Linked DNA regions of Homo sapiens: region 2 is linked to region 1. Evidence: fine-mapped expression QTL. A gene starts in region 1. The other region holds a variant in brackets. All regions are shown on one strand. Distances are between the middles of the regions. Region 1 holds the start of GPR75 (G protein-coupled receptor 75). Region 2 has its middle 66 kb from the start of ACYP2.

The links. PIP is the estimated chance that this variant, and not a neighbour inherited with it, causes the effect.
Region 2: its variant is fine-mapped to the expression of GPR75 in monocytes after LPS (Quach 2016, PIP 0.95).

What each region holds. Positions count from the first base shown.
Region 1 is chr2:53,857,446-53,861,840 of GRCh38, reverse strand. GPR75 (G protein-coupled receptor 75) reads left to right here and starts at 1,874. Exons shown (of 2, transcript NM_006794.4): 1 at 1,874-2,013. It overlaps GPR75-ASB3 (GPR75-ASB3 readthrough), which reads left to right and starts at 1,874. Exons shown (of 10, transcript NM_001164165.2): 1 at 1,874-2,013. The coding sequence starts at 1,913.
Region 2 is chr2:54,047,719-54,052,113 of GRCh38, reverse strand. It overlaps a transcript of ACYP2 not described here and the pseudogene HMGB1P31. Among named protein-coding and RNA genes, the nearest start is that of ACYP2, 66 kb to the left of the region's middle. The variant C/T (reference allele first, on the strand shown) is at 2,068.

The DNA.
Region 1 (4,395 bases):
GTGCACATGTATCCATTTGCATTGCAATAATAAGAGTGTATTAGAAGAATGCCAGTGTCAGGGCAGATTGATAGCCAATTCATGATCTATAATTAGCCCTGCTTATTTATTTGCAGATTTTCCATTTTTTTACTACTACCAATGTTTTTTCCAATTTCGCTCACTTGTGGATTTTGTAGATATACTAGTTTTAGCCTTGTTGAATGGTTCTAGCTAGTTCTGGAACTTTGATGAGTCCTGATTTCCTCTTCTAGATCTCTAGAATCCTTTATGATTTGTGGTTTTTTGTTTGTTTTCAGTTTCAGACCATTTCTCCGGTAGGTATAACTCTGATGGTCTCAATGCAGCCCAAACCTATTGTAATCTCCATTCATATAGCCAAATGCCTGGAAATGAACTAGCATTTATTTATGCAGTAGCTAATTTATTATAGAGAGGTATATAATTTTGATCAGAATTCCCACTCCAAATGCTAATGAGTATTTTTCTGTGGATTGTTTCTGGGACTCATGGTTACCATTATTGATAACATATACTGGAACTGCTTTATTGCAAGTGGTTGGGAAGTGGAATATGTGGGAACTGGAAAACTTTCTTGAAGTTATTTCTAAACAGAATTCTGATGGCATACTCAACTCCTGGACTGAATAATAAGTTATCTAGCCTTCTTGCTTTTTGTTTTTTCGTTTGTTTTTGTTTTGTTTTGTTTTTATGAAAGCACAGGGAACTGAAGAAATTGCATTAATTAAATTACTTGATACTTGCTAGTTCTGTTTTAAAAAGATAAACCATTAGCTAAAATGAAGAATCCAGTATAAGTATTTCATCCGAACGGAATCAACTTTGCTTTTCTGGTAACCAGAGTGAATGAAGGAAAGGGCATTCAAATAACATTCTCTGTTTCTAAATAGCATCCCTGAGGTTAGAAAAGTAGTAAGATCCTAGTTAGCCAGGTTGGGATACTGAAGGGAGAAGAGTTTAACTGGTTTTATTTTGTACCCATCATAGCAGACATACTTAGGAATGTTACTTGATTGTTCAGACTAAAACCTATCTTAGGAGTTCATTATTTTGGACATGTATGAATTCTAGAAGAATGAGAGAGGATGGTAATTTTAGTTTTGTGTTTGTGCTTAATAAAATTAGCTTGTACATTGCACTATGATTTATCAAGATTTTTTACATTCAACATAGTATTAAGTAATACATCAATATCCATGATTCCTGGGCTTGGTCGTTTTATTTGCATGGGTAGTTTCTTTATGCTTTGCATGTTTCCTGCCAATTAGTCCCCTTGCTGAGTTCCCTCAGTGAATTCACTAATACCTTAAGAGAGCTTAGGTAAGTTCAAATAGGTTTAATTTAAATTCTATTACAATGACTTGATTTGTAAATTCTAGGTCTCAAAGTTCCAAACTGGAAGCCGCCGCCAATTTAATTCATGAGGAAAAATATTAGCCGCAGCCTAAGTGAGGAGCTAGTTAGGACGTCTTAAAAGCGCGGGGAACGAGGAGGAGGTGGGCTGCGGGCAGGGTAAGCAGCCTAGGGAGGCCCGCAAAGACCTCCCTGGGTCCCTGCGTGCCATCAGTACCCCTATCTTTCCCTTCCTTCCTTACCACTCCACCTTGCTCTGCGTTTCAGGTTTTGGCTATTTCAGGGAGCTTGAGTTCCCCAAACAGCAAAACTGCGAGCCTGAAAAACCTGGCTCAAGCGCCCCTCGTGAGGCGGGCAGCGGGAGTGGCCGGGCTCTGGGCCCCAGGAGGCAGGCGACGGAGGCGCGGAGGGTGCGGGGCGCAGGCGGGACGCCAGGCCCGGGTGTCCGGCGGAGGGGGCGGTGCCCTCGGCGTCTCCGTGACTGCGCCTCTGCGCCCGCGTCTTGCCGCGGCTCCCGGGATGCGCGGAGGCGGTGGCGATGGCGATGATGCCTCTAGTCCTGCATCATCCAGAGCGGCAGGCGGAGCTGGGGTCCGGACTGCGAGATGGAGGAGGGGCGGCGCTGCGGCCACCCGGCAGGTGAGAGGCCGCGGGCCCCTGGAGGAGGACAACCCCACGATGCCGGAGACGGCTCCCGGAGGCTGGCGGGATAGCGAGGAGCGCGGCTGCGCTGGGCCAGGCCCGGCTCCGCGTACCTGTCTTCCTGGTGCGGCCTGCAGGGTAGCCTTCTCGCCCGTCCCTGCCGGTTCCCAGGCTCTGCTCGGCCGTGGAACCCCCCCCACCCACCCACCCACCGCCCCTACCCTGGCTGAGCCCTCCTAACCCACCACCCCTCTGCGGCATTCTTTTGCAAGCTTACCTGGCCCGGCCTAGGCCCTCCTTACCGTCACCTCACCCTTCTCCGGGAAGCCCCTACCCACCGCCAGCCCCTCACGGGGGGGTCGACCTTCCCTGCCCGCAGTTTCCCACTCTGTCCTCAGGCTGGGGGCTCCCTGGCCTCTTCATCCCTCCCATCAAATGACTCAGGTCTTCCCATCCCATTAGCTGCTCCGGGTTCAATGTAGTTCTACTGGATAGAAAGAGCAAGGGCTTTGAAATCAGATAATGACCTTGGGGAAGTTATCTAACCTCCCTGAGGTTTTCCTGATCGATAGAAATACAATGGGAATCACAATAATACAGAACCTTGCTCTCTGTGAGGATTAGGCTTTGAAAATGCTAACCTAAGACATTTTGGGGCGCGCGGGGAATGGGGTTGGAAGAATTCAGGTCGTGAGTTGATTTATGAAAGCCCCTATAGCATGTTTTAATGTTCACTAAAAATTTAAAACAGCACACTAGATATATCAGAGGCTGTTCACATATCTTAATGAAAAATCATTGCCACTCAAATTATACAATAAATTTTCATCCATATTCTTTGCTTGCTAGTTACTTCAGGATGTCTCATTTGTAAGAATATGCATGTGAATTCATTCTTACTGCAGCTAATATGCATGCTTAAGACTGGTGTTCCAGCTTAAAATCTTTCTGATTTTGTGACTTTAATCACATCTTCTATAACCTATTCTCCGTCCCAGAGATGAAGAGTAGCTTGTATGTTTGCATTGCAAATAACATGGGTAATCTTTATTGAATATTTATGAGTAGCAAAGCAGTATTAATTTATTCCCCTTCCAAAACCACTTTTATTTTCTGCCGTCATCATGTCATTCCAAATTATGGTCACAGCCTCCTTTTTCTTAAAGTCTCAGGAGTTACTACTAAGACCTGAGTTTACTTTCCCTCCATTTTCTTGATTTCTGTTATACTAAAGTTTTTCTGCAAACCTTTTCGTCTTTTCTGTCCTCTGCTTTTTCTCCCTTTTCTCTTCCCAGCCCATGATTCCTTTTTTTCTAATTATCTCAATAGGAGTGATTTATGATTACTTTATATGTGAACTACAGTTAGATACATAGAAGAATGTGTGTGTGTGTGTGTGTGTGTGTGTGTGTGTGTGTGTGTCTATCTGTATCTACATAGATGTAGATATAGCTATATAGGTGTATCAGAATTTCGGATTCCAGAAAGTTTCAGTGGGGAAGGGATTGCAATACCTATTCATAGGATTATTGTGAGAATGAAATAAAGCTTGATAATTTATGTAAAGCCTCTAGAATAGGTGCCTGGTGTGTAATAACCACTTAATACTTCTGACCTGGGGATGCCTCCCAAAAAGGTTTTTTTGTTGTTCGGGTTAGCATGGTGGTGAAGAGTGTGGAAGAGCAACTGCTTAGATTCAAATCCATGTTCCACCACTTTAGATAACCTCTCTTTGACTTGGTTTCCTCATCTGCAAAATGGAGATGTTATATCAAGTATTTCAGGGTTGTTATGAGGACTCAATAAGCTAATAGTGTGGAACATTGAGAAAAGTACCTGGCACATCATAAGCACTTGATAAAATTAATATACTAATAATGATGCTGATAATTATACTGCCATTGTTATTTCCTGACCTGGAATTCTTATTTTTTTTAATTTACTGAAGGCTGGGTACAGTGGCTCACACCTGTAATCTCAGCACTTTGGGAGGCCAAAGCAGGCAGATTGCTTGAGCCCAGAAGTTGGAGACCAGTGAGGGCAACATAGTGAGACTCCATCTCTATTAAAAATATATATATTGAAAAATTTAAAATTTGTTGAAAAAATGTAACTGTACAAAACGTGAAAGTTGCCTCTCCTCTACCCCAAATCACCTTTTTTCCTCCTGCCTCCTATTCTTGACTAATGTTAGTGCTTCATCATCTCATTTTTCTCCTAATCCCTTTTTCCAAATATCTCTTAGCCTGAGGTCTTCATAACTTCCATCATCCCGCTTCATTATTACCTAGTTACTTTTCATTTGTCTTAGCATCCTAATTCCAGACTCCTCATTCTTCTAATTTCCCCAGGCCAAATTCCTGCATCCCTCTTCACCCC
Region 2 (4,395 bases), 190 kb before region 1:
CTCATCCTCTTCATCTTCCTCCTCTTCCCTCTATTTATTTATTTATTTATTTATTTATTTATTTATTGAGACAGAGTCTTGCTCTGTCGCCCAGGCTCCAGTGCAATGGTGCGATCTTGGCTCATTGCAACCTCTGCCTCCTGGATTCAAGTGATTCTCATGCCTCAGCTTCCCGAGTAGCTGGGATTACAGGAATGCATTACCACGCCCAGCTAATTTTTGTATTTTTTTAGTAAAGGCAGGGTTTTGCCATGTTGGCCAGGCTGGTCTCAAACTCCTGACCTCAGGTGATTTTCCTGCCTCGGCCTCCCAAAGTGCCGGGATTACAGGTGTGAGCCACTGAGCCTGGCACTCTTCCTTCTTTTTCTTGCTTTTTTCAGCCTTGATGATTCCTTTTTTTGCTGCATCAGGCTTTCCTTTAGCTCAATATGCAGCAATATCCTTTCATATTTTTCCTTCAACTTCGCAGCCTTCTTTTCATAAGGCTGCTTGTCACCTGCAGCAGTGTCATTCCACATCTCTCCTAGTTTCTTCACAACATCACCAATGGACAGGCCAAGATGATCTCCTTTTATTTTTGGGCAATTCTCAGAACAGAACAGAAAAAAAGCCCAAAGGAGTCCTCTTGGGTGCACTGGGATCCTCAAACTTCTTTTTTGTCACCCGTTTAGGAGGGATATAGATTTTCATTTCTCTTTCATAATGGGCCTTCTCTACCTTTGCCATGTCTTCACTTTTCTCTTTAGCAGACATGGTCTTCCACCTCTCTGAGCACTTCTTAAAAACTCTGAGAAGTTGACTGAAGCATCTGGCTGCTGCTTCTTATGCTCTTCCTGACAAGTTTGCACAAAAAATGCATATGATGACATTTTGCCTCTCAGCTTCTTAGGATCTCCTTTGCCCATTTTTAGTTATTTTTCCTCAGTGAGGCAGAGTCGCCCAATGCCTGTCTGGTTCTCACTTGCCCAGTGCTGTCTCTATGGAGTTCAGTGTACTGCAATGGCTGTGAGAGCCATTGCACAGCTCTTTAAAGGAATTTGTGACCAAGGACGGTGGTTCTCACCTGTAATCCCAACAGCATGGGAGGCCGAGGCAGGAGGATAGCTTGACATTAGGAGTTCTAGAACAGCCTAGGTAGAACAGCGAGACCTTGTATCTACAAAAAAAGAAAAAAATTTAATTAGTTGGGTGCACACCTGTAGTCTCAGCTACTCAGAAGGCTGAGGCAGGAGGATTGCTTGAGCCCAGGAGTTCAAGGCTGCAGTGAGCCATGATGGTGCTACTGCACTCCAGCCTCAATGACAGAAAAAGACATTGCCTCAAAAATAAATAAATAAAATTTTAAAAAGACAAAGGAATTTGATAAGTGCAATCAAAAATTGAACTAGAGACTATAAAGACAATTTTTAGGGGGATGCAATTGTTTTACCCAGCACTGGAGCGGTGTATACATGACTATGCATTTTTTAAAACCCATATAACTTCACAGTAGAAAGAATGAACTTTCATATATGCGAGTTTAAAATTTTGTTTTCTTTAGTTATTTTCTTTTTTTTTTTTTTTTTTCAGGGATGGGGTTTCACTCTATCACCCAGGCTGGAGTGCACTAGATATCATGCTAACTGCAGCCTCCAACTCCTGGGCTCAAGAGATCATCCCACCACAGCCTCCTAAGTAGCTGGGACTACAGGCACGTGCCACCACATCTGCTAATTTTTTAATGACTTCTAGAGATGGGAGTCTCCCTATGTGTGCTTAGACTGATCTCAAACTCCTGGCCTCACATGATCCACCCACCTCAGCCTCCCAAGTAGCTGAGATTACAGGCAAGAGCCACAGCACCTGCAAGACTTTGCGACTTTAAAGGAAACAATATACAGCAGGTCCTCAAATAATGTTTCATTAAATGTCATTTTTTAGACTGTTCATGAAAAAAATTTGGTTTCTACTGTTGCATCATGAGGTCCTAAGGAAAAAAAAGAAAAAAATTTGATTCTTTATATGTCATTTTGCTTAAAGTTGCAGTTTCCAAGAACCTATTGATGTTAAGTAAGGACTTGCTGTACA[C/T]AGAAATACACGCATTTATTTTCTAACTGTCCACTGAGAAGGCCTAGAAGCAGTGTCCACCCAGTAGCAATGAGCACACTTGTGCATAGATTTGGCTTTCCAAAAACCACTCTTCAATGAAAGAAACCAGGGCTCCTTGGAAAATAACTGATTCTAGGGCTGGATAAGGGAAAATACAAGATAAGCTTGGCAAAAAGTAAGTATAGTGCCAGGAAGAAAGGAATTGCTCAGAAAACAAGAGGGATGTGGAGCCAATCTGAAAGAGCTCCCAATGGCCAAAGCTGGAAAAATGTGAGCAAGCTTCTTATTCTGAGATGAGGAGATACTCTTTTTTAAAAAAAATACTGGTTGAAAGAATAGAAAGTACTCATAGTTGTTTGGGGGGAGTAAGAAGCAGCAGAGGGGCAAGGACTGCTGTTTTTTGTCAAAGGCCTTGGAAAATGATTTGACACTTGCAACCATGCCCATGCTTGCACAGCTTTGAAAGGAAAAAAGAAACCCTACATTAAAGCATAAGCAAACACAAAAAGAATGTAAAGTTAAAAGGGAGGATTTTGACAAGGGAAGGTTTTGTTTGTTTGGTTTGGTTTGTTTTATTAAAATGGGAAACAGCATATTTACATGTGGATAGGAAGCCAATAGAGAAAGCATAAAACCACGGAGAAGAAAAAGACACATTGACAGGGGCAAGTGTCTGAGGAGGTAAGGCAGTCTTATAAGATGGTGGAAGGATTCACAAAAGATCAGGGTGGCACTAGTCAGTTCATTATTATTATTATTATTTTTGAGATGGGGTCTCACTCTGTCACTCAGGCTGGAGTGCAGTGACGCGATCTTGGCTCACTGCAGTCTCCGCCTCCCGGGTTCAAGCGATTCTCCTGCCTTACCCTCCTGAGTAGCTGGAATTACAGGCATGCACCACCACGCCTGGTTAATTTTTGTATTTTTAGAAGAAACAGGGTTTCACCACGTTTCCCAGGCTGGCCTCAAGTGATCTTCCCACCTCAGCCTGCCAAAGTGCTGGAATTACAGGTGTGAGCCACTGCACCTGGCCCCAGCTCATTACTTCTAACCTATCTCAGAACAGACACTGACACATAGCAAATTCTCAGAGAATCTCTGTCCTTGTCCCTGCTGTTGCTTCCTGCTGAGCCCTGAGGTGCACCTACCCTTGCCTGGTATGAGGTGCTCTCATAAACCCTAAAAGTGCAGTCCCTGGGAATTTCAGAGCCAAGTCTGTCACTTCCTCTTGTCAGTGTCTAAATTAATTATCTAAAAGATTTGAAAACAATTCTGCACATTTAGGCACTGAAGATATCTTTAAAAATGCCATATATGTGAATGCATTTAATACTACTGAACTATACACTTAAAAAATGGTTGTAGGTCATGGTGGCATGTGCCTGTAATCACAGCTACTCTGGTGGCTGAGGTGGGAGGATCCCTTGAGCCCAGTAGTTCAACACTAGAGTGAGCTATGATACTGCACTCCAGTGGGGTGACAGAGCAAGACTGTCATCTCTAAAAAAATTAACTAATTGATTTAATTTTTAAAAAGTGGCTGTAATGGTAAGTTTGTTATGTAGCTGTTAACACATGGTTAATTTTTTTTTCTTTTTCTTGAGACAAAACTCACTCCATCACTCAGGCTGGAATGTAGTGGCACAATCACCACTCACTGCACCCTTGACCTCCCTTGTTCAAGCAATTCTTCCACCTCAGCTTCCTGAGCAACTGGGGCCATAGGGTGTGCCACCACACTCAGCTGACTTTTTTTTATTTTCAGTAGAGACAACATCTTCCTGTGTTGCCCAGACTGTCTCAAACTCCTGGCCTCAAGGGATCCTCCTGCCTCAGCCTCCCAAAGCGCTGGGATTACAGACATGAGCCACTGCGCCTGGCCTACAAAAACTTTTATTACAAAAAATATATATAAAATTAGGAAAAATCATCTCTAAATGAATAATACTACATTTGTCAGATTCTAATGACTTAAATAATAGAGTGAAGCCCAAGGTTACAATGCTTAGTGAGACCTGGAAGACCAACTTGATCTTCACCTGCAACCATGGAACCAGCCTTGGCTGGGGGAAAGAACTCACTTCCCAGATCACAGGGTCAATTCTATCTCCCTAGCCATTGACGAGTTTTCTTCTAGAACCATGACTCAACTCTTGAGGAGACAATTTCTTATCGTGGTATGGTAGCTGCGGTCTTTTGTCTAAGTAGAATGTTCATGATATATTTAATGTATTACAACCTTTTTAAAAAATCCATCTCACACTTTAAAAATTTGTTCTCAACTTCAGAAATAATTTTGAAAGAACA